Linked DNA regions of Homo sapiens: regions 2, 3 and 4 are each linked to region 1. Evidence: fine-mapped expression QTL. A gene starts in region 1. Each other region holds a variant in brackets. All regions are shown on one strand. Distances are between the middles of the regions.

Region 1 (7,339 bases):
TTAGAGCTGGACAGATGTGCGTTTAAATTCTGGATACTCTACCTGTGGTCCTCTGTCAGGTAGGCAACTTCTCTAAGACATGTGTTCTAATATGTAAACTCGTGCTATGAGCAATCACTGAATGGATATTTACAAAGAGGTAGCTTAGAACACAGTAAGGATTTAATAGGGATTAGCTATGAGTATAATATTTTCTGAGAAATAAGTAATGAAAAGGTAAAATAAGAATTCTAATTCTGAAAATATACATGAAACATTTGAGCTTCTCTTTAAAAAGTTTATGTCAATTGACGGTGTTATAATTACTATGGTTTTGAAATTACATAGAGCTTTTGAATAATGAGTTAATCTATTATTCTTTAAATGCTCAATAATTAATATTATTCATATTTAAATAGGTATCTAGACATATTTATCCATAAAAATTTAAATTGTGTGGAATATGTATCATAGGCAAGCCAGTGTCATCTAGAAGTCTTCTTCCTACTGAATGGAGTTAGTTGATTAATAGTGTAAATGATTTGGATTTTTAAAAAGTATCCCTTTCTTCTCTTGATCATCCTTGTGATGATCAGAAAATTGACAACTTTCAACAAGCAGCAACTGAATGTGAATTCCTATACCCCAAACTGGGAAGTATTTTGACGTAATCATGTGAATAGGGTAATTATACATCTTCTAAAAAATCTGAAACTTAAAAAGTTGGAGTGAAAACCCAGCTTTCAACTAGCATTCTTATATATTTTAAAAATAGTATGATCACCAGGGTGAACTAGTGAGTATAGATGACATGAAAGAGAGTAAGATTTATGTTTCCTGCCTCCCATCAGTCTTTGTGGAAATCCAAGGCAAAGTTTAGCATAGAATAATAATCATCCCCCATAAAGTGAGTCATATACTGTAAAAAATGTCAAACTCTCTGACAATTCCCTTAATGAGAAAATTCTAGGGATTTCCATCCTTCGTAATTACATGACTCAAAATGCATAAGCTGAGTCATTAGGCTGATGTGTTTGATATTGTCTATAGCCAAATAGTTTTTAACTCTTAAAGAGAAAGGGCTTAATTTGCAGGAGCAAGTTGATGGTCTAAATTCCCACATGCCTCCTGCTGCTGTTAGAAGCTTCTGCCTAGTTTTGTTATAATTACAATGTGTTTATGTATGGGCAGGGTTGGCTTCTCGGTACTAAGTTTTTTAGATCCCAAAAAGAATTATTACATATGGCCAATTTGTTGGTGTGGAGGCAATTCAGTGTATTTCAATGAGTAAACTCATTTAGATCTTTCTCTAGTCAGTTATTTACTTAAAATCTCACATAAATCTCTCAAAACTAAAGTATTTTGAAAACACTTTCAAAAGTTATTGGATGTCTACTATATTCTAGCCACTGATTTAGGTGCTGAGGATATAGCACTGGTCACTGAAGACAAAGCTATTGCTTCTGTACATTACCTTATCCTGAAAGTTATGCTTTCAGGATTTCTTAAAAAGTCAAACAAAATGAATCCAGTTTGATCTCCTGACAAGGTAAAATTACTTTGGACATTTTCCTACAAGTACAGTCATAGCATCTACATGAGCATTCTTTTTGTAAGAGCAGAGTAATCATTCAACATTTAAGATCTACACTTGGGAGTGAAATGCATTCCTTCTTGAGAATACTGAGGTCTTATAAACCACCCATAGTATTGATCCCCTGCCCCCTGTCATGGTGGTTAAACATTAAAAAAAATGACTGAATATGTGGGAAATTCTCAAACTGCATTCAAACCCAGTGCCTGACTCAGGTCTGTTAGGGAACTGAATAACCTGAAACCATGCTACAGATAATCCAAAATCCATAAGAAAACTTAGAAATGACTCACCATTTTGAGCATAGCCACTTTCTCCAGAAACGACTTGAAGTAAAGAAAAAACCATGCCAAAAGTTGTACCTAGAATTGTCATTCTGAGAGAGATAGAGAGAGAGAGTAGATGTGTGAGCCAGTGTGTATGAAATGAATGAGAGTAAGAGGAAGGGAGGGAGGGAGGAAGACAGAGAAGCTTAGATCTAGGGCTTTATACTTATCTAACCACAGACAAGGGAAGTATAAACACAGCAAAAAAGAAGGCAAGTTCCAGAAACAGGAAGTCTGAGTAAAAGTATTGCTGCTGTAAGCAGAGGTCAAGGACATGAAGAGACAGAGCCTCTGAAATTATTGTTCCTCCTGGATATTCCCTGCAGCCCCCACACTTACTGTGCTTACATCAGAGTAAGGCAGTAGATTCACACCTAGGCTCAAGCTATCTTAGGCTAGAGGCTACTTTATTTTTTTAATTTTTATTTTTTTGAGACAGAGTCTTGCTTTGTTGCCCAGGCTGGAGTACAATAGCATGATCTCGGCTCACTGCAATTTCCACCTCCCAGGTTCAAGCAATTCTCCTGCCTCAGCCTCCTGAGTAGCTAGGACTACAGGCAAATGCCACTATGCCAGCCTAATTTTTGTGTTTTCAGTGGAGACGGGGTTTCGCCATGTTGGCCAGGCTTGTCTCGAACTCCTGACCTCAAGTGATCTGCCTGCCTCAGCCTCCCAAAGTGCTAGGACTACAGGCATGAGCCACCGCTCCTGACTAAGGGCCCACTTTAAAAGAATCTGAAGACAAAAATTCAAACTTACAAAGTGAATCAATTGGTTGTTTGGAGTGAGTTTTGATTTAAAGAAACAGTCTGCACTATGTGAAGTACTTTATTGTGGGTTTATTTTAAATAGCTTACCTCCAACTTCCAAGTTTCACAAGAATAGCAGTTTTTCTCTTTTGTTCTCTGTGTATCCCTGGTATTTACTCATATCTTACACACCACAGTAGGCATTCAAGAATTATTTGTTTAGGGCAGGGGCTGGCAAACTATGACCTAGGGAACAATTTTTTAAAAAATTATTCATTTATTTTTTCTTTTTCAAAAGATCTTTTTTTTTCCCAAGTAAGCCTTGGGACCAAATTTAATCTACCACCTGTTTTTGCAAATAACGTTTCATTGGAATACAGCCTCACCCATTTGTGTATCATCTACAGCTGCTTTTATGCAACAATGGCAGAGCTAAGTAGATGAGATAGAGATTGTATTGTACAAAAGGTGTAAAATCTTTACTATCTGACCCTTTGTAGAAAAAGTCTGCTGACCTCTTGTTTAAAGGATAAAGTAGGTACTTTCTTAGTGTATTTAAAACAGGATTCTATTTGTGAAAATTTGATTGCCACACAACTTTTCAGGTACACATAGTACATATGAACTAAATTAGTGCCTAGGTATATGGGGCAGAAATCTGAGACCATGGCATAGAAAATTCAGACTCCCCCAAACCTGAATGCCAGTCAAAAGCCTTCCTAATATGGCCTCATGGTTAAAGTGGTGATATTTGTAAAGCCTGACTGCTTCTTGGTAACTGTTAGATTTTTTTTTCTTTTTCTTGAAAAAAATAATCTAACCTGGATTCAGGCCATAAAACTCTATGCTTGATTCACAGTGGCTCTCTTTTGGAAAAATGCCACAAGACTGCAGTTATAAGGTGAGGAGTGCAGAGAAACTAAGTGATCAGTGAGTTATGAACTTCTGTTGGATTCACTGTCATTAGGTAGAATTGCTCCCATGGGCCTGTGAAATGGCTAAAATTAGCAGAGACAAGCAACAACCCCCCAGGTGTAAAGCAAATCGAAGAGACTTTAAAAGACTCATGATTTAGCTTGTCCCATCATTACAATTATTTGACAATAACGAAGTAACAAAAAAAGGAGGTGGGACATTTGTACCAGTCTCTGGATCCTCCTTTTCAGTTTTAAGACAGACTCCGTCTGCACCAGTTATAATGCCACACTTTGGAGTATAGGCTCAAGGAATACTTCGGAGCAAGAATCCAACTGAAGGGGACATATTCCATCTTCTCCATTTGTCAGGGCCTTCTCTGGGCATTTCAAAACCCTTCCAAGCCAAATAAAGAGTGACAATTTTGTGCATCGATAATAATTTATGCCCTCATTTCTAATCTTGTTTTGAAAGCTTGGTTAGAAAATTGTAAGCCTGATTCACAAAAATTGGTATGTTTTGTACACTGAGCTAAATACCCTTTCAAGAAAGCTATAATTACAGATTCCCATGAATTAAGCTAATGTTCAAGGAGAAATCCCAAATTATATCTATCTACCAATGCAAATCTCCTAAACTGCTAACAGATTGTCACTTCATGGGTGAGTAACTGGGTTATGTCTCTTTAAATTCTCTTGTTTATCATTTAAGTGGACTATCATTTTGATTGTATCTCTTTCCTTTAGTTGTGAAGATGTAAAAGAACAAAGCCAAGACACAATATTTTGGTACAGCATGTGCTGGTTTGTTCTGGGGATTTCCACAGGGGTGCTTACTCTTGGGTGGGGCAGGAGATGCTGAAAAGACCTCAGAGAGAAGCCTAAAGTGTGGGGAGCTCAAAGAAAAATGACATGCGTCACCAGTCCTTCTAGAGATTGTGGGGGAACAACAGTGCCTTCTCTCTTTCCTCACTCAGGTCTTGTTAGTCCTTTGGAGACTTAGAAAAGCTGAGGAAGAACCACCTAGTTCACCCTATCCCCCAGGTAACAAACATTTACTATATTACTTTGTCATTACTTTTGTGAGACAAGCACAGAAAGAAGAAAAGAGGATGAGGAACACTATTTGGGGACACTCAAGTCTCCAAATGTGAAATCAGGAGGGAAGCATTGGACTGTGGTAGAAGCAAGCAGTTTGGCGTGGCAACTGACTTGGCCATATTTCTTCTCCTCCTCTTCACCCATCACTTCCTTTCATGGCTACATTTTCTCGTCTCTCTTTTGTACTTTGTCTTCCTTCAGTTTGATGAGTTTGTATGATGTAGTGAATCATTAAAAAGGAAAGCCAGCTGGGTGCAGTGGCTCATGCCTGTAATCCCAACACCTTGGGAAGCTGAGGTGGGCAGATCACTTGAGCTCAGGAGTTCAAGACCAGCCCTAGTAAACATAGTGAGACTCTGTCTCTGCAGAAAATAGAAAACTTAGTCAGGTGTGGTGGGGCCCGCCTGTAGTCTTGGCTACTCAGGGCTGCAGTGAACCGAGATTGCGCAGTGAACTGAGATTGCACCACTCCACTGTAGCCTGGGTGACAGAGTGACAGTCTGCCTCAAAAAAAAAAAAAAAAAAAAAAAAAGCCATTTGATTCTTTCTCATACACAAGCAGAACACACTGACCTTGTTAAGACTCCTGACACCAGTTGGCCAAGTCTCCTTTTCTTCCTTTTTTGTAATTGTTCAGGCTATTTGCCCAACAGGCAAAACACAAAAAAGACTTTCTTTTATCTTCAGATTGCAATAAGTTCTGTGGTGTTCCTATATAACCGGTAGAGTCCTAGCAAGTTAAGAGAACTTATCTTTTAACGAGATTGAGATCCTAAAATGTTAGAGGGGTGTATCCATTATTTGGTTGTTTGTTGTTTGTTAACTGGATAAAAATCTAGCCCAGATCTTCCTTTTTTTTTTTTTTTTCTGATTAGTAAAGACAAAGGTTTTCCTGGGAAAATTCAGGCTGAGCATCTTGTCTTATTACTAGTGTTTACTATCTGGATCCATCTATTAGGAACAGAAATTTTGACTCTATTCTCTACAGAAATTATGAATTTAGTTGGACAGATACCAGTGTATCATGAGAACCCTGGGAAACAAACTGTTTCAAGGACAAAAGCATTCCTCTGACTCAGTTTTTAGATGAAGCTTATAAAATAGTCCTTAAGCCTTTAGCAATTTGTCCTAAATGAGGATGATTTAAAAGTCACTCACCTTGGGACTATATATTGAAGGACAATAAGTGAAACAGCAATAATAACAGGCAGTAAATGTTGCAACAGTAATATCCTGGGTAAAATCTGATGTTTGAAAAATACTGAAAACACATTCTATGTGTCATAAAATCTGTATGACCTGCCCCCACCTACTGTCAACTTACCTTTCTTAACAGGTTTTATCCTTAAGGTGGAAAACAATCTTGGGCACCAGCTATCTTATTAAAAAAAAAAAGCCAGCCCTGCTCAAGAGAGAGGCTGGGGACCACAAGAGCTGTGGAAAAAAAAAACAACAAACAAACAAACAAACAAACAAAAAAACCCAACATCCAAGGGTGTCAAGCAGGTGAGGATGGCTGTAGGAAAGCTAATGCCACTCTGGTCCTAAATGAATAGTCTCTAGCATTTGATAAACATGTGCTGAGTCAGTCCCTACGATTCTGAGGGGGAGTCCCAGCATCTTGAAGTTTCATTTCCAGGAGCATGACATTTTCCTTGTTGTGGCTCTTCTTTCATTTCCCTTTCCTCCTTCCCCCACGTCTTCAGCCTCATGTCTTGCTGCCATTTGTCTTCTTTCTGGGCAGAGTTTGAAATGTCATACTATTTTCACCTTTATGAGATTTTAGCCTCTGTCTCTGGATGCAATAAAAATGGAAACTTTGAGTACCAACATTTCACTCTTTGCTGACGACATTTCTGCCAGAAAGTGAGTGGTATTTCAATTTCAGTACATGCCCACATTTTGATAAAACAGTGAACAAGAGGGCTGACCCTGGGAAGAGTGGTGAGAGTGGTATGCCTTCTGGCAAAGGCTGAGTCACAGTGCCCCTTTGGGCAGCGGGAGCCAGTGTGGTGTCCCTGCAGCTCAGTGTCTCCCTCTCTGGCCTTCCCAGCGGACAAACAGTTCACAGCAGCTCCGGCTGCCCACTCCACTGTCGGACACAGTGCCCCAGTGTGTTTCTGAGAAAAGTCTGGATCAAGCAACCCCATTCTGGGTTCTGGCCCGTGCCCCTGCACACAGTACTTGCCTCAGGGTAAGCTCCATTCCTGCAGAGTGGTTCCTGAGGGACCACAGTTGGTGGCCACACCCTGCAGGTCGTTTCCAAATCTGGACCACTGGGAGAACTGGCAAGAGTCCTCAATTCTACTCTGAAGCTTCCTCTGCTCTCTTAGAACCCAGTCCTCTGTGCAAATGGAGTCCCCAAGAACAACTCTGCTAGCCTAAAATTTCCCAAGCTTAATATGCAAAGTCCCAGCCTGGGCAATATGGTGAAACCCTGTCTCTACCAAAAATACAAAAAATTAATCAGGTGTGATGGTGTGCACCTGTAAGCTACTCAGGAGGCTGAGGTGGGAGGATCACCTGAGCCTGGGAGGTTGAGGCTGCAGTGAGCAGAGATGGCACCACTGCACTCCAGCCTGGGTGACGGAGTGAGACCCTGTCTCAAGAAAAAAAAAAGTAAAGTCAACCTTAAAAGCGACCCTCAGTTATACTGCTCATGGAATTGTCACAGAG
Region 2 (7,640 bases), 130 kb after region 1:
TTAATTCTAAGATAAGAGGATCAATTGATGAGAGGACATTAGGAAAACCAGACACTTTCAAATTAAATTGGCCTTCCTCAGGGAGGTGAAAGGATTGGGAGGTTAGAATTGTAGGAGGGAGGAAAAGATAGGGAAAGTCTGCTTTATGTGTTTGTTGTTGTTGTTGTTGTTGTTTTCTTTTAAGAAAGGCATTATTTTTACCTTTCTGTTGCAAAATATATCCTCTAGGACTTAAATTAATTAACAGCTTCACTAGATAGAAACCAGATCAGTTAACAGTGATAGCTTTCTTATTGCCTTGGGGGTCAACCATGTTCAGCAAAGAACAACTTTTTGTTAACAGTGCTAATGGCTGCCTGGGCTGCCAACAATGGCAATCAAAGTGGAGATTTAGAGTGTCTTAAATAAGATGAAAATTTTAGCTCAGAAATGGACCAGACTGAAGCAACATGACCAGGAAGAGAAGAGGTCCGGTGTTAGGCAAGGAGCCAGAGACTGAACATGTGTTCTCAGAACTCACGGTTGAAAAACTATTCTGAAAAAGCTCATGGAGGGAAAGCTTTCTCTGCTTACTGTCCTAAAATTTATGCTGTTACTCTGCGTAGAGCTGGAGATACAGAATGTGGACAACTACAAAGTAATGAGACTGGTTATCTGGGGTTGCTTATAAAACCTAATTTTAGCACCTTTATAATCAATAACAAGAGGGAACTCTCCAGGTCAGCTTTGCAAAGGATTCCCCTTTCTGCCCTCTGTCTTTAGTAACTTGGTCTGGGGCCAATAATAATACTCCATATTTATTTACAGTTTATTCTGAGCCAGACCCTGTACTATTTACTTTTTTGCACATGTACTTATTCTTTATAATAGCCACATGAGTAGATACTCCTATTACTCCATTTCACAGATGAGGAAATTGAGGCATATTAAGGTACAGTAACTTGCCAGAGGTAACCCATATATGGTAAATGGCAGAGCTAGAATTTCAGTCTAGGCGGGCTGGCTGTAGACTCCATGCTTTTGATTGTCATACTTCATTGCCTTTTAGTGTCTATTGATGTAGTTCATATTGATAAATGTTCTTTTGATTCATACTTAGAAGTTTGCAAACTCAGAGAAGTTCTTATACTACTATTTACTTGGCTCATTGATTTTAAGATTATTTTTATTTATATTGCATACCAATTTTCTTTTTGGAAAATTTCTGGTAAAATTTTTTAAACTTCAGTCTGATAAACAGATTCATTAAGAGACTCGTACTTAAGAGCAGAAATATTATTTATTTAATTTATTTAAACAATTGTAACATTATTGAGGCAAAAGTCAGGGAAGTTATGAGCAATTTAGTGTGCAAATTAATGTGGGAGGGTAGATAATATTCTCCAAAGAGTGAAGAGGCTTTTTGTTTTCTTCTCATAGGTTAACAGTTCTTAACAAAACACTTCTTTATTCATTTTGACTCTCAATTTCCTCATCTTTGACATGGTAAAATGATAATTTCTACTTCATAGATGATTGTGAGAACTTAATGAGATTATATATGTAAATCATCTTGTGTAGTGCCTGGTACATAAAAGGTACTTTATAAGAGGTAGTTTGTTATTATGCTTATAAATTGTATTATAAAAGAAGACTATGGTTGAATTTCGCTACCAGAACCGTGATCAATCATAAATTAATTGCCAGCTTTTGTATGTGTGGCATCAACCTTCCAATGAAACCCAATGTATTTTGCATTTGCTATAAATCTATGACGACCTTGCATATTGTGCCACATACTGTCCTCTGTTAAAGGTCTCAGGTGATAAAAATCTATTTTAGAAATTAATCCTGTTAAAATTTAAACCCATCATACTTCCTCCATCACCTTGTCAGGTTGTTCTGATTAAGGAGTCATCACAATAAGCATTGTGTCTTTGAGCTGAATGTGCTAATTTCCTCATTTCAGGGCTTTGGATTTTTATTTCTATTTCAACAGCATTATTATAAACATGTTTTTTATTGTAATTTAACTTAAATATTTGGAGGAAGAGGTATATTATAAATAATACACCAGAAATCATTGAATGTTTCTGATTTTCCAGTGGCTACAATAGAGCAGTCAGCCTTGGGCTCCAGTAAAGTAGTTCTCAAATGTTAGTGATCATCAGGATCCTCTAGTGGGCTCGTTAAAACACAAAACTGCTGGTCCCCACTCCTGGAATTTCAGATTTAGTAGGTCTCGGGTGGGGCTGAGTATCTATATTTCTAACAAGTTTCCAGGTGATGCAGATGCAGATGCTGCTGGTCCCAAAACCATACTTGAAGAGCCTCTGCTCTCATAGATGATCTAGTTATTTCAATTTCCTTTCACTTTTGTCTTTTTTCCTCTGTTCTTCCAGATCCTTCAAATTAAATGGCATTAATGAGACAGCCAGGTGGGAGGGGGTCCCTGGACCAGCCTGCTCACTGGGGTGAAGCCTTGGGAAGTTCATGCCATTTGTGTGGGGAGGAGCCTGGCCCCTCTTTTTCCTGTGTGGAACCTGGGATTCAAACTGCCTGGCCTTGCAAGAGTTCCTGTTTCCCTCTTTTTTCCGTTTTAACCCAATAAAACCCTGCTTTACTCACCCTTTAAACCATCTGTGAGCCTAAATTTTGATGGCTGTGGGCAGACAAGAACCCCATTTTAGCTGAACTAAGGAAAAGTCTTGCAACATTTTTGGCACCCAACATGGGACTTGAGAAGCAGTGAGTGAAATGGGGACTCAAAACCATGGAATACTATGCAGCCATAAAAAATGATGAGTTCATGTCCTTTGTAGGGACATGGATGAAATTGGAAATCATCATTCTCAGTAAAC[T/A]ATCGCAAGAACAAAAAACCAAACACCGCATATTCTCACTCATAGGTGGGAATTGAACAATGAGATCACGTGGACACAGGAAGGGGAACGTCACACTCTGGGGACTGTTGTGGGGTGGGGGGAGGGGGGAGGGATAGCATTGGGAGATATACCTAATGCTAGACGACGAGTTTAGTGGGTGCAGCGCACCAGCATGGCACATGTATACATATGTAACTAACCTGCATAATGTGCACATGTACCCTAAAACTTAAAGTATAATAATAAAAGAAAAAAAACCTTGAAAAAAAAAACAAAAAAAAACCTCTCACTGTTGCTTCTAAGACTTTTCATCCTTGGACTTCTGAGGGTGGGGGAAACCAAGTCCCCAACCCCCATGAATCCCATGTCTTTTCATGGCCTTTTCGTTTTTTCTACTGGATAGATGGGTGAGCATCAGCTCCCCGATGCTCCCTGCCCCATGCCAGGGCTGGGACGCATGGTCCCAGGGTCCTGACCAGCTGGATGGCTGGTTCCCAGCCACAAGCCACCACAGCCTTCCCCTTCCCCAGCCAAAGGGTTTTACTCCATTGGACAGTAATTGAACACATCTCCCTGGTGGAGGAACAACTTGCATAAGAGTAAGAGGTTCTTTCCCAGACATTTTTAAACTGTTTTTTTTTTTCTTTCCTCTTCTCCACCCTGTCAGCAGTTAACCTTTAAAGTTTTTACCCCCCTTTACTAGGCCAGGCCCTCAACTAATACTGTTCATATTTTCTGTAAAGCTTTAATTCTGAAAAAGGATTTGTGGGGCTAGTCTTGGGCTGTGGCCAATCTTGTGTGCTTTTCATGTCCGTATGGTTTGTGCTGCAAGCCTCCATCTTGCTTTACATCCTAGGGGCATAACCACTTGGCAAGGCTTTGTTTAGCAATACTGTGTTAGGGGATGAGCCCTCTCTGGTTCAATGTCTGCATGTTTTCCTAACTCTGTCTCTTAAAGGACCCCACCCAGCAACTGGATTTTCTTCTGCCTGTCTATGTATGTACTGTGTGTGATGTCTGTGAAAAGATCTCTAACTAATTCGGCCTAAAGAAAGACAAGCACTTGGATCAAATACTTTTTTTAAGGCAAGTTAAAAGCTGTGGTACCTTTCACTTCACGTGACTTTAATCTTTAAGAAGTAAAAACAGCCCTAAAGACTATTGGTAAAATCCAGGTCAGATGCAAGGTTTGCTAAGTGTTTTAAGGTTACAGACTGCTTTTTGGGTTTTGAGAACTATTTGACATGCGGCTTCACAATTGGTAAGGTCTGGGCACATATGGAACTAACCACACCCTTAATTAAGAAGGCAAACCTTGGCTACACTTAGCCCACAATTAAAGCAACTCACCAAGCTTTACCTTAAAGTTAAAATTGATAGGAGTTAACTGAAACTACTAGAAATAGATTTACATGCAAGATGTGTAAGAACAGTAAAATGTGTGTTTTAGTAAACAGTTATAAGAAGGCATGGAAATGTAAACCTTTGCCTAGGGTTATAGGATTGTATTGAGTGAAATTAGGAAAAAGCTGAAGGTTCAAAGAAGTGGTAGAATAATTGTGGAAATTAATCTTGCAGAAAAGGTTCTCTGTGTGAACATATTAACTAAATTCCAAAAAGGGTATTATATGGTTTTCCTGTAAATTGAACACTGAAATAAAAGCATAACAAGGTTTTCCTAAGGCACTAATCTGCTCTTTGGCAAAATTTGTAAAGGGATATAAAAGGTTTTTGCTTCTTTAAAATTTCTGAGTCATCATTTTGGCAAAATAAATAGTTTATGGTAATCTGGAATTCTATTCAATAATATCAAGTGCTTTAAACATATTTAAAAGGCTTCCCAAAATCAAACTTCAGTATCAAAATTATCTTCACTGGCACCTGGCTTTTTGAATACTTCAGAGGGCCCCTGAAGTGTCCAGAAAAGAGAGGTAAACAGGATTGTTTGACAGGTTTAGGTACGTGGGATTGCCAAAATGATGCTCAATCTTCTTTAGGTTATATCTTGATGAATAATGCTAATATATGTTCCAAAACTGTATAAAATTTCTAAAATTCTAATGTCTAAGTATATGCTATCAATCATAATTAAGGTTGTTATGTTAAGTTATTGAAAACCGTGGAGAAAACCAAACTTCTTTGTCAATCATGTTTCTAACTGTAACTACCCTGGACATTTTGCTATCCACAGACAATTGTTGTCTTGTTTTAATCCTTTTCAAAGATAGTTTATAATGAGCTATAGAATTTTAACAGATGCTCTCAAACACAGGTTTCTGATAACTTTGGAGATTGTGACACTGGAATAAAAAAACATACAGGACTCATGAATAGCTGAAATGTTCATAAATATCAAGTGAAGCAAGAACTAAATGGACTGAACTCAGAAAGCTGAAGCAAACTTTTTGACTTTGCTTGGAATATTGCTGATCCTTATTTTGTTTTTCAGAGTCAAGGAAACTTATTTTGACTATTTATGGCCTTTAATAATTAAGGAGTAAGCAAGGTATACTCCTATGATCAAAATTTGGAGCATGTTTGTTTCTCTCTGCCTGGTTCCTCCAGAATTTAGAACCTATCTATGAGTATTCTTATGGAAATATAGTTGTTTGCATTAGTGCAATAAAAATCCATTTTTCTTTTGCAACAGGACACAATTGGAGAAAGTGGTTATTTTACCTAGGCTTTGACTGGAAGGGTATGCTTCCCTTTAAGGAGTAAATCTCTACTTGCAGAGCCAATAAAAGGCTCATACCTTCGTCTACGCAGTCCTTGTACAGGGTTCCTGACCTGTGGTCAGTAAAGAATGTCACTCTCTGGCTGGGTGCAGTGGCTCACACTTGTAATCCCAGCACTTTGGGAAGCCGAGATGGGTGGACCATGAGGTCAGTGGTTCCAGACCAGCCTGGCCAACACAGTGAAACCCTGTCTCTATTAAAAATACAAAAATTAGCTGGGTGTGGTGGCATGTGCTTATAATCCCAGCTACTCGGGAGGCTGAGGCAGGAGAATCGCTTGAGCCTGGGAGGTGGAGCTTGCAGTGAGCCAAGATCACGCTACTGCACCCCAACCTAGGTGACAGAGCTAGACTCCATCTCAAAAAAAAAAAGTCACTAATGCCACTTTCTAACAGGTTCAGGAGCTCCAACTTTATCTTGGGACCATAAGAGAAGAGGGCCACCCACCTCACAGGTATTTGAGGATACAAACCCATGGTTGGGCTTGGCTTTAAAAGGTCTTATCTGAGATTCCTTGTGGAACAGACTTCCATCAAAACCAATCCAAAAGGCCTACACAGAAATAATTATTCTTGCTGCACTTTATGCAAATAATCAGGCCAAGTATAAGACTAAAATCTATTTTGCAAACCATTCAGTCCTGTGATGATTTTTTAACAAAAATGAAGATGGGAGAGAGAGAAATCATGTTTCAAAACTTACACATTTGTCGTTAAATTCTCAAGTCATTAGTTGTTTTTAAGTTTTCCCCTATATTTTAGACTAACCCTGCTTGCTTCTGTGAACCAACCAGCAATTTCTGGCTCCAGGTCAAAAAGAACAAAAGGGATGAGTAATGTAAAAATCTGGATCGATATTCTAGTTCTAAGCAATTATCCTGCAAATCCTCTGAGGTGATGGGAATAAATAGGATGCCCATGACTCGGAGGTTTCCTTTTTGGGAAAGTAAGACCAAGGCAGCTAACCAAAGCCAAGCATCATGCACCCAAATCTTAGTAAGCATAACTATAGCTACCAGTTATCTGGGTGTGTCACAAGACATTCTTTCCTCTCCTCTCACCTTAAAATTCAGCTTATGATAAGGAGTCCATGTAACTCCCTGAGACACATTTTTGTCCCAAACTCAATTCCAAGCTTTGGGTCAAAGCCCTAGGCAGGAAAATTGGATCTAGGGGATTCAGGGGCAAATGACAACAGAGGTTAAAAGGCACAGCAAAACTGAGAGTGGCTGATTCCTGCCGATTAAGCCAACCCCAAGCTTCCTGTTTCATGGATAAAGGTCACGTTAGTGTCCATGACATAAATGATATCTAGGAAACTCCAAGGCTACTGACAGCAGGGGAGATAAGGCATACATGGGTAAGAGGAGATAATTCCTATTCTCTAGGCCCTCCCTGCTTCATGGGTGCAAGGTGCTTTGGCACTCATGGTGGGACCTGCCAAAATCGCTCAGATGCAAGTATGGAAGAGGGAAAGTAGACACACTTCCCTCTCCTTCATGTACCCTGGTTATTTGCTAGGAAGAAACGGGAACCAGGGATGCCTGCTCCCCTCTTTCTAGATGGGTGGTCATTCATCTTCACTCTGTATCCCTTTCAAATGCATCCTGACCCCCTGGGACTCCTTTAAAAGGTGCTACTTTTTTCTTTCTCCTCCTCTGTCCTCTCTTCACAGATAGGTAATTGCATCTCCGTACTATGGGACACTCCCCTCAGATGCATCCTCCAAACTTGAAAGAGTTTATTTCCCAAGCCTTAAACTGGTTGGCTTAGGATTGGGCTCAGGGGAAGGGAACCCAGAAGCCTGACATGCCAGCAAAAGAGTAGAGTTTTTTTAACCAGTTGGGGTTTTGGCCTACCTCTCCCTGTGCAAACTGGTAAAAGGCCTCAGAATTCTTGAGCTGTCCTTATCCCTCCCCTTGTTTTGTTTTAATACATGTTTTCTAATAACTCCATTTGTCTGCTCTTGCCTTCAGGCCATCAAACTATAAACAGCCATGAAACTGGAGCCTCTGACAATGGCCCCTTCTACTGGGAACCCT
Region 3 (7,640 bases), 65 kb before region 1:
TCATACAGTTCTAACAGCATGTGGATTACTGTGAGTCATGTTTCCGTGCGACTTGGGCAAGTTACCTGATTTCTCTGCATCCTAATTTCTTTATCTGTGAAATACCAATAATAGTAGTAACTAGCTCATAGGCTTGTTTTTCTTTTTTAACCTTTGCTAATTTACCAGGATGACTACGTGCCCAGCACACTTTAAATTTTTTTTTTAAATTGACAGATAAAGTTGTATGTATTTACTTTGTATAACATGATGTTTTGAAGTATGTATAATTGTGGAATGACTAAATCTAGCTAGTAACATCTGTGCATGGGTTTTATTTTATTGAGATGAATACACATAACATAAATTAGCAATTTTAAAGTGTATATTACATTCACAATGTTGATAAACCACCGTCTATGTCAAGTTCCAAAACATTTTTATTACCCCTGAAGGAAACTTTACATTCATTAAGCAGTCACTCCCCACTGGCCCTCCCACCCCAGCCCCTTGCAACCATTAATTTGCTTTCTGTCTCTATGAATTTGCCTATTCTGAATATTTCACATAAATGAAATCGTACAATGTGTGACATTTTGTGTCTGGCTTCTTGTACTTAGCATAACATGGCCAAGGTTTGTCCACATTGTGGTATCTATCAGTACTGTGTTCCTTTTTATGGCTGAAGAATGTTTCACTGTATGGCTATACCACAATTTGCTTATCCCTTTATCCATAGGTGGACATTTGGTTTGTTTCTACCTTTTGGCTGTTGTGAATAATGCTGCTATAAACATGGGTATATGTGCATTTGTTTGAGTTCCTGTTTTCAGTTCAACTCAAGGGGTTTTTGTGGGAACTGGACACATGCTTACTACCTAGTGGGGGCACCACTGATGCCTTTAATATTATTCTGAAGGTGTGCAAAGAGGGTCCCACTGGGGATCTGTCCCAGATCCAGGAGCTGGATCTCACTTTCTCTCCATGACTGGTTTTTAGTCTCTGTTTCTCTTCATTCTCACTTACTGTCATGGATGGCAGGGAAAAACCAGAGCAAAATGAATAAGGTGGACAAGGTAGGGGAGATGTCATGGGAAATGAGAATGGGAGGTGAGTGGCTGGGGACAGCCATTGGGCAAGTATCATGAAGCAAGGTCAAGGGTCAGGAAAGATGATGGTGGTCCTGGGAAGGATCAAGACTCTGAGGTGGGTTTAGAGAATGAGAAGGGCATGTTGTTGACACCAGTTCCTGCTTCCATAGGGGTTGGGGTGGGGATGGGGCGCATGCCACTAGCAGAATATGGTCAGGGCAAGAGAATGGCTCAGGCAAGGATGAGTAAGACAGCAGGACATGGCTAGATGAGTGAATTGGTGGTCTTGTCTGTGACTCAGGATTCTGGCTGTTAATAAGGGGACAGTTAGTGCTGAAGCTGGGAACGAGCTCTGGGAATTGTCAGCTTGAGGTCAGGTAACAAAATAGTAATAAGCAAACGCCAGTTATTAGAAAGCTAAAGCTGCCAGGAAGGGCACAGTCTTGGCTGCAGGTGTCCCTGTTGGATGAGAATTGGAACATGCTCCTTGTGTGTGCCTGGCAAGAACGGAGATGGAAGTCTCTAAGCGCAGGGTGTGCCACCGTCTGGAGTTCCAGGGAACCTCTGCTTAGGTGCCAGTGGAAGCAGAGGAAGACTGTGTAGCTTTAGACAGAGCAAGTTTTTCCTAATGTGGAGTAAAGAGCTGGGACGTAGACAGGTCTCCTTCTTGACCCGAGGTTCAAGAGAACTGAAAGGAATTGCTCCCACCTTCATCCACATACTGGGAATCTGAATACAGGGCAAGAAAGAGGGATCCTGTACCTTGGCTCGGTGGAGGCTGCAAGAAAGTGGCCACGTTAAGTGTATGCATCCCTGAATTGTCTATTCTGGCCTCAGTTATTGGCTTGATGAGATTCCCTTTCCCAAAAGTCAAATAAGGAGTACCCTCTATGGGAGACCTTTCAGGGTGTATAGGAGAACAACACTCTTGGCATAGACGAGGTTGTGAATCTGCAGGTTGCTGTCTTTGATGAAAATAATTCAGTCCTAATGTAGCACTTAGGGGAAGTGCCAGAATTTGACTGGGGAGGGAGCCTCGAAGCCAGGGTGGAACCACATTCTAATACCGTTTTTTTTTTTTTTTCTGCACATTGCATGCTGTCCTTTGCACATCCTTCGAGCCTCTTGCCTCTCATTCTTTTCATTCACGACTCACAGGTAACTTCCAGAATCCCCCATTTACTGAATATGTGGACTTATGAGAATTAGTGTTTTTTGAAGCTGGGATGGAATTTAAAGACCATCTTATCCAATCCTCCCAGTTAAAAGAGGAGGAAACAGGCTGTGAGATTCACTCACAGGCAGGTTACCAGGCAGATGGGGGTGAGGGGTTGGGGGAGTTGAGGGGTGGGGATTGAAGAGTCAGGACTATAACCCAGGTCTCCAGGCCCCCAGCTAAGTGCTCTTCCCACTGTTGTGCAAGCTTTGAGAGCTCAAGTGTGGCTACAAGAGTTTGTACGTCCCTTGGGGACCACTCAGGAGACAGCACTTCACTGCACCCATCCTAAGAACCTCATTAGGTGTTAGTGGATACTAACCTGTGAATCAAGGAGACCATACCCATTACTGGTAAGAATCATTAAGGATCAAGTGCTGAAAATCTCATTCAAGACAGAAGCAACAAAATCAATGTTTAGACCAAAGAGGAGAACATTAAATGTGAGGGTCAAGGGAATATGGAAAATTCTACATAAAATAATATGGTATATAATGTTGGTTCAAAAAAGAGAGTATAGAGAAATTGCACTTCTTTTATGGATGGAAGAGGGCTTCAGAAAGATCAAAACATCTTGGGAAATGGTGATATATTTAAGATTATTGTCTAGGCTGGAGAAACCAGATGTCCTCAGGACTAGATAAGTAAGTTATAAATATGCCAGGCACACAGTTGGCATAGAGAAAAATTGGAAATTCTGAGAGGTTTCCTGACAGAGAAGGCTGTAAATTTCCTTCTCAGTGAGGCTTCTGTCACTCTGCCCAGCCAGAGGCAGCGGCGAGGCCTGGACTTTGCTAACATGCTATGGCTTCCCCTCAGATGGCAGGGACAGCGCGCCATGACCGAGAGATGGCGATCCAGGCCAAGAAAAAGCTCACCACGGCCACCGACCCCATTGAAAGACTCCGACTGCAGTGCCTGGCCAGGGGCTCTGCTGGGATCAAAGGACTTGGCAGGTAGGACCCAGCTACAAGTGGCAGGGAATGGAGCGGGAAGGAATGACTCTGCCAGGTGAGGCTAATGTTGGCCACGTGGTCTTGGGGAAGTCATCTCCTCCTAGGGGCTCAGTTCCTTATTTGTAAAATGTAGAGTTTAGAAGAGTTGATCTATGAGGTCCCTTGTGACAGTTTTTGGATCTTAGTCCCAGATTCGGCAAGACTCATATCTGCTACAAGACAGTGCAGCTCTGGGAAAATATGAGGTAAAGGGAGAAGCAGCATGTGCCCTGGCATGGAGATGCCTACCAGGACAATGAGAGGGACTCTCTCTGCAGCTGTGATAATAAAGGCCAGGGTGGAAGAGGGAGGAAGGAACAGCCAGTTAGCCCTAATTGCAGAATTTGGAATTTTGCTCTCGGGCAATCATTTCTCCATCACTTCCAGGGACACTGGTATTGCTTGTCAGATAACTGATAGCTCACTGCCAATGGGGTTCTCTCAGCTGGGTAGCTCCTGTTCTCCCACCCTCTGTCCTCTGAGTGTGAATAGTTTTAAGGACTGAGAAACCAAAAGGGAAAGGAGATTGTGAGCCTCCTGAGGGCAGGTCCTGTGCATTATAAGAAACTCCATCAAGAGCCTGCCATGGGCCAGGCATTGGACACATCTCAGGGACCCGTGGGTGAACAAGGCTTCTTAAGCCCCCATGGAGGACTAAGACTATGGACAATATGAGTGATCTAAATGGCATCTCAGTGGTGTGAGAAGTTGTTTATTAGAGAAGTACAGGGTGCCAATGGGAGGGAAATCTAGCCTTGGACCCAGAAGATGCGGAAGGCTTCACTTCC[A/G]GCAAGGTACTGAGTGCCTGGGAGAAAACTCTGAACAGTCCCAAGTCTCAGACTAAGCCCAGCTCTGTCAGAAGGCCAGGCAGTGGGGATATGGACCCTGGTGGCCAGGCTGCCCCAGTCCAATGGGAAGACCAGCACCCATGCCCTCAATATTGTGTCACTTCCACCTCTATCCCATTCATCATGGGTCCACATCATTGTCCTTAGTGCAAACCCTTGAGGAATCCTCTCTTCCACTCTCTGGTTCACTCAGTGGAATCCCTCCTGCTACCTGTGCCATCTTCACCCCATACCCACTGCACACTGCGTCTCTACCAGCCTTTCCACTGGGAACCAGTCTACAGTCAATGGACACCGTTCCATCCTAAGCCTTTTGCAGAATGTGCCATCTGCCTCACTTACTGGCCTTGGCCTTCTCTAAGTAACTCCTAACTCAAGTGGAAGCTGCCCCTCTCCTCCACTCCTACCTTAGGGTCAGTTGAAGACTGAACACTCTCCTTCAGTCTAACTCCAAATCCCAGGTCATACACACCCCTTTGTTCATTTATTTCTTTCCCATAAATCCTGTCTTAGAAGGGCATCTCTTCAGGTTAGGCTCTGCCATCATCCCCCCTGCACAACATTTAGCATTCTGTGAAGCATTGACTCCCGGCACCATCTTTCCACCCTGAGTCTTTATCCTGACCAAGATCAAGATGACTTTGTTATTTATAACCTTGGCACCTTCATTTTTTGACATGAAATTCTTGTGGTTTTCAACAGTATACGTTCTTTCTTAGTCATTTCCAATTGCCTTGTAAATGTAGATACTTCTCTAGTATCTAAATTCTCAAGATTCTTTTGCTAGTATCCTTAATTTATCAGACAACTTGGCTACTCCTGAGTTAGCACATCTGTACCTTGGCCCCTTGCCACGTTCTTGGAATGCTATCCGTTCCTGAGATCCAAACTAATTTCACAATTTTTATATATATATATATATATATTTTTTTTTTTAATCAGGAAAGATACTAGCTAACCAGTGAATATCTCTATATAGTTGACTTAGTATCCAATCCAAACAAAACAAAAGTCATTTTTTTTGTTTTTTGTTTTCCAAATAGAGCTTCTTCTGCAGCCCCTACGGTTTTAACAGTATTACTACTCTTCCAGGTCTTTGGGTTGAAAACTTTAGAATTATCTTCATTAGCCCACCATATTGACTCCTTTATTTCTATAATATCTTGAAATCTTTATTTTTCTTATTTTCATCCCAATTGCTCAAGTGTAGACACTCAACATTTTTTTCACTGGACTCTTATGATAGTATTCTTGCTGGTTCCTTTGCTCCTAAGTTTTCAGTCCTCCAATTCATTCAACCCATTATTGCTAGAGTTCTGTTAGCTCTCTTATGGGTAAAGTTCTCATTATTTTGATAATGTCACTTCAAGTCAACCATTTAATGACTTTAAAAATGACTTGCTAATAAAGTTCAAATTTTTAGCATTTAAGGACATTTAAAAGTCTTTAGATTCTGATTACTCCAACTTTCCATCTTTTAAAAAAATTATTCTTTAAGTGCTGGGATACATGGGCAGAACGTGCAGGTTTGTTACATAGGTATACATGTGCCATGGTGGTTTGCTGCACCCATCATCCTGTCATCTACATTAGGTATTTCTCCTAATGTTATCCCTCCCCTAGCCCTCCACCCCCTGAAGTTCATGTTCCACTGTGTGATGTTCCCCTCCTTGTGTCCACGTAATCTCATTGTTGAACTCCCACTTACGAGTGAGATCATGCGATGTTTAGTTTTCTGTTCCTGTGTTACTTTGCTAAGAATTATGGTTTCCAGCTTCACCCATATCCCTGCAAAGGACATGAACTCATCCTTTTTTTATGGCAGCCTGATATTCCATGGTGTATGTGTGCCACATTTTCTTTATCCAGTCTATCATTGATGGACATTTGAGTTGGTTCCAAGTTTTTGTTGTTGTGAATAGAGCTGCAATAAACATATGTGTGCAAGTGTCTTTACAGTAGAAAGATCTATAATCCTTTAGGTATATATCCGGTAATGGGATTGTGGGGTCAAATGGTATTTGTGGTTCTCCATCCTTGAGGAAATGCCACTCTGTCTTTCACAATGGTTGAACTAATTCACACTTCTACCAACAGGGTAAAAGCATTCCTATTTCTCCACATCCTCTCCAGCATCTGCTGTTTCCTGACTTTTTAATGATCACCATTCTAACTGACATGATTTGCATTTCTCTAATGACGATAAGCTTTTTTTTAAAATTTTATTATTATTATACTTTAAGTTTTAGGATACACGTGCACAACGCGCAGGTTTGTTACATATGTATACATGTGCCATGTTGGTGTGCTGCACCCATTAACTGGTCATTTAGCATTAGGTATATCTTCTAATGCTATCACTTCCCCCTCCCTTCACCCCACAACAGGCACCGGTGTGTGATGTTCCCCTTCCTGTGTCCATGTGTTCTCATTGTTCAATTCCCACCTATGAGTGCGAACATGCGGTGTTTGGTTTTTTGTCCTTGCAATAGTTTGCTGAGAATGATGGTTTCCAGCTTCATCCATGTCCCTACAAAGGACATGAACTCATCATTTTTTATGGCTGCATAGTATTCCATGGTGTATATGTGCCACATTTTCTTAATCCAGTCTATCATTGTTGGACATTTGGGTTGGTTCCAAGTCTTTGCTATTGTGAATAGTGCCACAATAAACATACGTGTGTATGTGTCTTTAGAGCAGCATGATTTATAATCCTTTGGGTATATAACCAGTAATGGGATGGCTGGGTCAAGTGATATTTCTAGTTCTAGATCCCTGAGGAATTGCCACACTGACTTCCACAATGGTTGAACTAGTTTACAGTCCCACCAACAGTGTAAAAGTGTTCCTATTTCTCCACATTCTCTCCAGCACCTGTTGTTTCCTGACTTTTTAATGATCGTCATTCTAACTGGTGTGAGATGGTATGTCATTGTGGTTTTGATTTGCATTTCTCTGATGGCCAGTGATGATGAGCATTTTTTCATATGTCTTTTGGCTGCATAAATGTCTTCTTTTGAGAAGTGCCTGTTCATATCCTTTGCCCACTTTTTGATGGGGTTGTGTGTTTTTTTCTTGTAAATTTGTTTGAGTTCATTGTAGATTCTGGATATTAGCCCTTTGTCAGATGAGTAGGTTGCAAAAATTTTCTCCCCTTCTGTAGGTTGCCTCTTCACTCTGATGGTAGTTACTTTGGCTGTGCAGAAGCTCTTTAGTTTAATTAGATGCCATTTGTCCATTTTGGCTTTTGTCGCCATTGCTTTTGGTGTTTTAGACATGAAGTCCTTGCCCATGCCTATGTCCTGAATGGTATTGCCTAGGTTTTCTTCTACGGTTTTTATGGTTTTAGGTCTAACATGTAAGTCTTTAATCCATCTTGAATTAATTTTTGTGTAAGGTGTAAGGAAGGGATCCAGTTTCAGCTTTCTACATATGGCTAAGCCAGTTTTCCCAGCACCATTTATTAAATAGGCAATCCTTTCCCCATTACTTGTTTTTGTCAGGTTTG
Region 4 (7,640 bases), 46 kb before region 1:
ACAAGGTGGGCGCCCATTGACAGAGTGAGAAGCAAAGTTTCGTTTTTGTTTCTAACTTTTCCACTGCAGGTGACCCCTGAGGAGTTCATGAACTACTATGCAGGTGTGAGCGCATCCATTGACACTGATGTGTACTTCATCATCATGATGAGAACCGCCTGGAAGCTTTAAGCACATGACCTGGGGACCAGGCCCTGGGACAGCCATGTGGCTCCAAATGACTAAATGTCAGCTCAAAAACCAGAATCGTATTTGATTTCACACTCATCCTAATGTTTTTTTCTGTGTCAAAATATTGCATTTTCTGGGGCCAAAAAACAGGCAGAAATAAAAGACATTGAGTAGCCAACTGTGAGTTTGCCTTGCCTAAGACTGTTTCCTTTGTTCTAAAATAGGACTTAAATAAAATGAGCTCTGTAAAGCTCCTAGTGCTGTGCTGATACATGCAGGTGTCTAATCAACTTTAGGTTTTATCCCTTGGCCATTAATGAAAGCTTGAGTATTTTAATTAAAACCCTCACCCATGCACCCATAGTTTTTCTTCACCTCCTTTTAGATGATCCTTTTCTAGGTGAGATGATAATATATCTCTTTTTATGACTGATTGTAAGTCTTTAAGTGTTTCAGTCTCATTTGGGGACCAGAAGAAGACCACGTGTTAGCCTCAATTTCTACAAGCAAATCTTGAGTTTCACTGCTTAGGGTTTAGGGAAGCCGCAGTTTGACAAATAGATTCAAAATGATTTATTTAATAGTCATTTTAAAGACTGGTGTGAGTGAGGAGGCTATTTCTTTGAGCAGTAGATCCACGCCTGTTCATGGTACTCCTGTGGCTGAAGTTTTGAAACTGGGCTGGGCGCTCAGATTTTATCTGGGACATCTTGCGCTGTGTGTGGGCAGGCTATTCCAGAAAGCCTTCACCTGGTGGAATGTTTATCTCTCCCCTCTCTGCTTTCTGCCAATTGTGTTGAAATTCCCACCAGCAAGGGCTGGGTGCAGTGGCTCACGCCTGCAATCCCAGTACTTTGGGAGGCTGAGGTGGGTGGATCACCTGAGGTCAGGAGTTCAAGGCCAGCCTGTCCAACATGGTGAAAACCCTGTCTCTACTAAAAATAAAAAAATTAGCTGGGCATGGTGGCACATGCCTGTAATCTCAGCTACTCCAGAGGCTGAGACATGAGAATTGCTTGAACCCGGGAGGCAGAGGCTGCAATGAGCTCAGATCATGCCACTGCACTGCACTCCAGCCTAGAGCAAGACTCTGTCTCAAACAAACAAACAAACAAACAAAAATTCCCACCAGCACAAGGAGGTTGGGTGTGACACGGACTAGGATTTCAATAATATTCCAAAGCAGGTTTTCCATCTTGATGCTTCATGGCTTAACACCTCCTCCTCCCAGCACTAAGCTTTGGCTTCATATCGTTGATGTGTAGGACTCTGCCCATGAAAGGCTACTAGAAGCAAAGATAGCCCAGAGGCTGGAAAATAGATAAGAAAACTACAGCTCTCCTTCTGTGTCTTCTGTATCTAGGGCCAGAGATAAAAGCACAGTGACCAGCCTCTGGTTATGGTGCTGGAGACAATGCCCACCCACCTTGCTGCTGGGTGAAATACCTCCTTTTGACTCTGTCCTTAGCTGCACTCATCCCCCAGTTTGCAGACAGGATTGGGTTAATAGTCTTCTTTAAGATCTTATATACTTAATTGGCTCTGGATTTAGGGATTGAACACACTTGCCATATTTTGTATCAATTCACTGTTTAGGTTTTATTTCATACGCTTGGAAGTTGAGATTCGGATATGTATTAATTTAAAACATGTGAAAACCAGTGCTGCTACATAGGCATTATAGTAGTTATTAAGTAACTTGTTGAGATGCTCAACTTTTTCTTGAGGATGGTGTATCCCCGTATTACCAGAAACTAGTTTTGTTTTTGTTTTTGTTTTTTTACTTAATTGCACAATTGCACAAGTTTGATTTTGTATTGGATTTATTATCTCTGCTCATATAGAGGTTGGTTAGGCCAAAGATACCAAGTGTTATGAAGAAATATGTAGACTTATGTAGAAAACCAGAAGAAATTGTGAAGAAATGTATAGAAAAAAATCCATATATTTTTGCAGCCTGTGCCTTGTAGACTGTGGCTAAGGAGAGGTCCCCTATTTCCTGGGGATGATGGGTTTCAAGGCTTTTGCTCTAGAAAGATTCTTGTCTTTGATTCTGGGTATGACTCATGCCTCAGCTTAACTGAGGCTATAGAGTGAGCATGTGATTCTGAGCAAGGACCAGGTTGCAGCTATCAGCTTAGTCTTCTCCAGTGATACTTTGCTTCCTGTCAAATGGGGGCACAGGGCACAGCTATCCAATTTCAGATAACCCATACTTCATAGTGTATTTGGTCACATTTAGTTGCTTCTCTTCTAGCGGTTTGGGTTCTGGGCCCATGAGCAAGGTTCCACCAAGGCCCTTTCACCCTCTGGAAACAAAATCTGCTAATAACCTAATGGTCAAGGGTCACTGCACTCCAATTCTCATTCTCCTTTATGGCTTCTGGCACAGTCACGAATTATGCATTATTTAGCTCTACTCCTTCTAGTAGGAGTGGGAGGAAAAGAGAAGAGACATTTAAAGAAATCATTTGCTAACACTCTTCTGGATATATTTTTTGTTTATTTAACTTACAGATTTTAAAGCTTACTCCGTTTACAATTTAAAAAATAAGCCCTTAGTTCAGAAGGCAAAACACAATAAAAAGTTGCCAAAACATCCCTCAGGAAAACCTCACCTGTTGGGTCTGGTCCTCAGATAGAAAATTAAACAAGCCAAAGAAAAGAGAATGAAATTAGCAACTTTTTATGAAACAAGAATGATGTATGCAAACATTCTGAGAATGAGAGTTTGTCAGAACAAACCACCCATAACAATACTGAATTTGGATTTCTAACTTGATCAAAGGCAAACCCATGCAAGAATGGCCAGAGACTCTGACTCTCTGCTGCTGTGCACATCATACTTGGATTCTATTCACAGTGCAAATGAGAAACCCAGAATGTGGAAGCTATGCAAACTAAACTGTAGACTGAGGCAGAATTCTTTCTGCTGGTCTGTGGGGCTGGTTTTCACAGTGATTTAAACTGTGATAGGATCTTCCCAGGCACAGATGGCACTTTGGAGGACCATGTACTTGTTCTGTATGGTTTGACAGCAGGCATGGAGTCACATTTCATACCGTAATCAAGCTTTTCAAAGGCAGAGCTGGGTGTTCTCCAAGTAGCTGCAGATTGACTTGGCATACATCATGGCTTGCAGGTGTAAATACATCCCATCAATAAATATTTATTGAGATACATGCTTTTTTTCTAGGCCATGGGGACAGAGCAGTGAACTAGAATAATTGCAAGCAAAACCATTGGCTTTCAAACCAAACTAACAACCCACAGTTGTTAAGAGATCAAAGAGGGTAGAGAGGGAGGGAAAGAACAGGCACCCAAATTCCCCTCCCAGAATCTCATTCAGCCTCTGAAGTCAGGACAGTTGGAGCCCTTTCTGTGGCACTGTGTCGGGGAGTGACGTAGTCAATTTCATGGACATAGACAGCCTATCAAGACAATGCAAGGAAAATCCCTCTCTGTATTTGGAGGCAGATAATTGTGTTGGCTCTTTAATTTTCTTGGCCAAAGTTGATTGTCTCACTGAGCCATGAGAGTACAAGTAGGTAACACTTCCATTCTCACTAAACTACCTGCA[G/AG]ATGCAGTCTATGTTGAAGTTTAATCAAGTGGAGAGATAGAATTTACCAGATGTATTCACAGATGGTGTGTGGGGGCCCTTCTACCTCTGCTTCATGAAATTCTATTAACCTTCTCTGAGTAGTATACCTTTTTTGGATTTATGCATATCTGTTTTGTTATTGTTTTTATTTATTATGTTTTTGATATGGAGTCTCGCTGTGTCACCCAGGCTGGAGTGCAGTGGTGCCATCTCGGCTCACTGCAATCTCCATCTCCCAGGTTCAAATGATTCTCCTGTCTCAGCCTCCGAGTAACTGGGATTACAGTCACCTGTCACTATACCCAGCTAATTTTTTGTATTTTTAGGAGAGATGGGGTTTTACCACGTTGGCCAGGCTAGTCTCGAATCCCTCACCTCAGGTGATTTGCCCACCTCGGCCTCCCACAGTGCTGGGATTATAGGCTTGAGCCACCACTCCCGACCATGCATATCTATTTTGAGTACAGAAATGAAGAACCTCATATTTTCCAATTCCCAAACTGGTCAACAGACTTGCTTTCCTGGAGATTATTGATTGTTCTTTTAAATTAAGATCCTATTGAATGAAGCGGTAAAGTTTTAAATCCTAGAAATGCTTATGACTCAAAGGAAAAACAAAAGCATCAGAAGTCTGACAGATTGTCATTTAATGTTATTGAGTTTCGTGTAACTGATCCTTTTGAAAGCCAATGTTTCTCAGCATGATTTTACTCCTCCAAGTCACTTAAATGAAAACTATGTAACTTTGATAGAGATAGCTAGTTCTTTTATTCCGAAAAAATAAAACCCACCTAGTTAACCCCTAAAATTATATGTTCTAAAACAGGTGATGGGTGAGATATGTTGAAAGAAACATAAACAAATGATTGATGGGGGTTCTGAGAACATCGCTGTGTGAGAAGAATTCTTTTTGCCATTTCAGCTGGTGTGGTGACAGGCTGTGGTGAAACAGCTCTTCCTCTCTGAGAACAGCATGACCTTCTTGTTTAATTCTCACACCTGCCTCGCCAAAGCCATATCTTTTCCCCTGAGCAAAGTATAGTGGAAGAACCTCCTCAGGAGTGAAGCCCACTGAAAATATAAGCAACCAACCAGTAGACAAGGTTTTAATATGGACCTTGCAATGACCAGAAAGGTAGAGTTCATCAGGGAAAAAAATCTCAACACGTAATGGCCTTTTTTTTTCTTTTGTATTAGATTTTCTTTTGATTCTTCCTAATGGAATTTATTTATTGTTTCTCTGGGGTATTTCAAAAATCCTAGCAGCCATTGAACATTGTTGATGCCATGTGAGTTTCACCGAAGTCCCTGTGAGCACCATGGGCTTCCAGCTCCATCTCCCAGCACTAGAAGTGTGATACTTAGCTCAAACACTCCAAGGATCACATCCAGCTTTACATTATGCCACCATATAACAGTCACTCATTTCCAATTTCATTCTGCTCCAGACCCTGTAATAAATGTACCAGGGACCTTGTGACTCAGAGCTCAAGCACTTTAAATTTGAAGCAAGAACTGAGTATATAGTAGTTTATTATCCTGTGCTCAAAGACTTGGATCACTTTTTCTTTTCTGACCTGAATACTTGGCATTCAGAGCCTGCTATTGACTTGGGAACATCTTGATCTTAAACTTGAAAGGTTTGAGTTGCTGAACTCCTGGAAATGCTTAGGCGACATGTGGAACTGATGACAATCCGCAACCCGAGAGAGCCTTAGAACAGGATGAGGACCCGGAATTGAGAGAAAATGACAAATGGCGGAGTGACTTGCTCCTTCCAGAGTTATAGTGAGTCTCAGAGTGCTTCCTGTTGATGGGATAAAGTGCTACACAATCGCAGGTTATTATCAAATGTTAGCCATTACCTTACTAAACCCAGCTCACTCCTTTTGTTTCCAAGGGAACTGGGAAATAAAGCCCCTTCCACAAATGTCATACTTAGTCATGCTTAAAATCTCATTTAGCAATATTACTCAAAATCCATTTACTTAAGATTATTATTGAAGTGGCTAAGTGTGTATAGCAAATCACCACGAATTCAGGCTCTACTAATTGAGATCATTTAGACAGGGTTTGAGTGGAAGTTTACTTGTATTTTATCTGTACCAGAAAAAAGAGAGGATGGAGGTTGTTAAGGAAGTCAGCAATGCAAAGATTATAAGGGCTGTGCCTACATAGGCCAAGTACCTGTAAAACATATACACATTCATATAAATATATTTGCAATATATTCATATATATCTTACAGGTACTTGGAGCTATTTGTGTATAAATATAATTAGTATGCTAGTCATAAAATGTTTTCGCATACCTTTTAAAATAGTCCTAGGTTAATTGTTAATTGGCAATGATTTATTGGACAACTATAGCTCAAGCTGTTTTCTAGATAGTGAAGTGTTTCTATTATGTAAATCCTATCTTGATAATATTTTAAAATAGAAATTGAATATACATTGAAGCTGAAAACAACATTCTGCGTTATAAGGAAACATTTTCATGATATTCATGACATAAATTTTTAAATATTTTATTTGAAAAGCTATAGGTGTTTCTAGTGGTAAGCTATACATGCACTGAAAGCAAGAACTTGGCTTAATAGCAAGAGCTGGAATATCATTTCTAGGGACGAAATATTGAAAGGTTCTTGAGTTACAAAGTTAGATATTATTTAATTTATAATACCAGCTTTGTCATTTTTTAAAATTATCAGACAGCACTTTGCCATTAACTTGGTTCTAATTTAATTTAAGGTTTGAAGCATTAGCAACTATTGTAACAAAAGAGGACATCTGGCTGTGTGCAGTGGCTCATGCCTGCAATCCCACCACTTTGGGAGGCTGAGGTGGGTGGATCACTTGAGGTCAGGAGTTCAAGACCAGCCTGACAAACATGGTGAAACTCCGTCTCTACTAAAAATACAAAATTAGCTGGAAGTGTTGGTGCACACGTGTAATCCCAGCTACTTGGGAGGCTGAGAGGCAGGAGAATCGCTTGAACCCAGGAGGCGCAGATTGCAGTGAGCCGAGATTGCGCCATTGCACTTCAGCCTAGGCAAGAAGAGCGAAACTCCGTCTCAAAACAAAACAAAACAAAACAAAAACCAAAAACAAAATAAAACAAAACAAAAACACATCTAGCTATTTCAGTTTTAAAGTGTTTCCAAAAGATATTTATTCTTGTTAGCAAGCATGTAACATATCATGCTTCTTTAAAAGTATACTTCCTTGACGGTGCTTTTGGATCATTTAAAAATGTTATTTGTGTGGTATTTCAGTTACAGGTGATAACGTTTCTTCTTTGAAAATTATGAGGCCCTGTTCACATTGTACTCGCTCATGTTCTTAAAAGAGCAAAACATAATTACTCATAAAACTATTATTTTGACAGCCAAGAATGAAAGTTCCAACATTTGATGTTAATATTACTTTCTTGCAGGGATGAACTACTTCCATCTAGCAGGCCAAGCAAGTTTCCAGAATGCCCAGCTTTTGAGTGGTGCTTCTAGATCTGTGGGGAATAGTATGACTGTATATGCTGGTATTAAGGAATTGGGGAGGTTAAGAGGGAGGAGAGAGAGATGGAATTTAGAGGCTGATTCCTACTCTTTGCATCTTTGGTCTTAACTTCATTGCCTAGTATAGGAAGCACAAGTCCAACCTTAAAATATTAACACGTATCCTGGCCAAATTGAGAAGTGGGTAGAGTTGGCCTTCTAGTACCTCCTATAGGGCTGGTACCTCTCCACTCTGCCACTGAATGTCAGGCATCATGTATTTCTGGGTGCCCAAGGATTCTGGGAAGTACCCATTCTCTAGTTCTATTCCTACCTGTGTGTTTGGTGTAGACTCCCTTTCACTAAAGCACTTTT

Alleles and levels. Positions count from the first base shown, and alleles are read on the strand shown. Sizes are in standard deviations (SD) of each study's normalised expression. Not every link is listed here.
In carriers of allele A in region 3, the expression in fibroblasts of the gene that starts at base 2,035 in region 1 tends to be higher than with G alone (small effect, 0.17 SD a copy in GTEx).

What was found. PIP is the estimated chance that this variant, and not a neighbour inherited with it, causes the effect.
Region 2: its variant is fine-mapped to the expression of IL7R in testis (GTEx, PIP 0.95).
Region 3: its variant is fine-mapped to the expression of IL7R in fibroblasts (GTEx, PIP 0.92).
Region 4: its variant is fine-mapped to the expression of IL7R in fibroblasts (GTEx, PIP 0.98).

What each region holds. Positions count from the first base shown.
Region 1 is chr5:35,851,587-35,858,925 of GRCh38, reverse strand. It overlaps IL7R (interleukin 7 receptor), which reads right to left and starts at 2,035. Exons shown (of 8, transcript NM_002185.5): 1 at 1,867-2,035. The coding sequence starts at 1,948.
Region 2 is chr5:35,717,959-35,725,598 of GRCh38, reverse strand. All of the region lies in intron 20 of SPEF2 (sperm flagellar 2), which reads right to left. Among named protein-coding and RNA genes, the nearest start is that of SPEF2, 100 kb to the right of the region's middle. The variant T/A (reference allele first, on the strand shown) is at 2,841.
Region 3 is chr5:35,916,586-35,924,225 of GRCh38, reverse strand. It overlaps CAPSL (calcyphosine like), which reads left to right. Exons shown (of 5, transcript NM_001042625.2): 2 at 3,106-3,242. The coding sequence starts at 3,106. Among named protein-coding and RNA genes, the nearest start is that of CAPSL, 18 kb to the left of the region's middle. The variant A/G (reference allele first, on the strand shown) is at 4,070.
Region 4 is chr5:35,897,076-35,904,715 of GRCh38, reverse strand. CAPSL (calcyphosine like) reads left to right here. Exons shown (of 5, transcript NM_001042625.2): 5 at 70-428. The coding sequence ends at 171. Among named protein-coding and RNA genes, the nearest start is that of CAPSL, 38 kb to the left of the region's middle. RefSeq lists an enhancer at 22-121. The variant G/AG (reference allele first, on the strand shown) is at 3,752.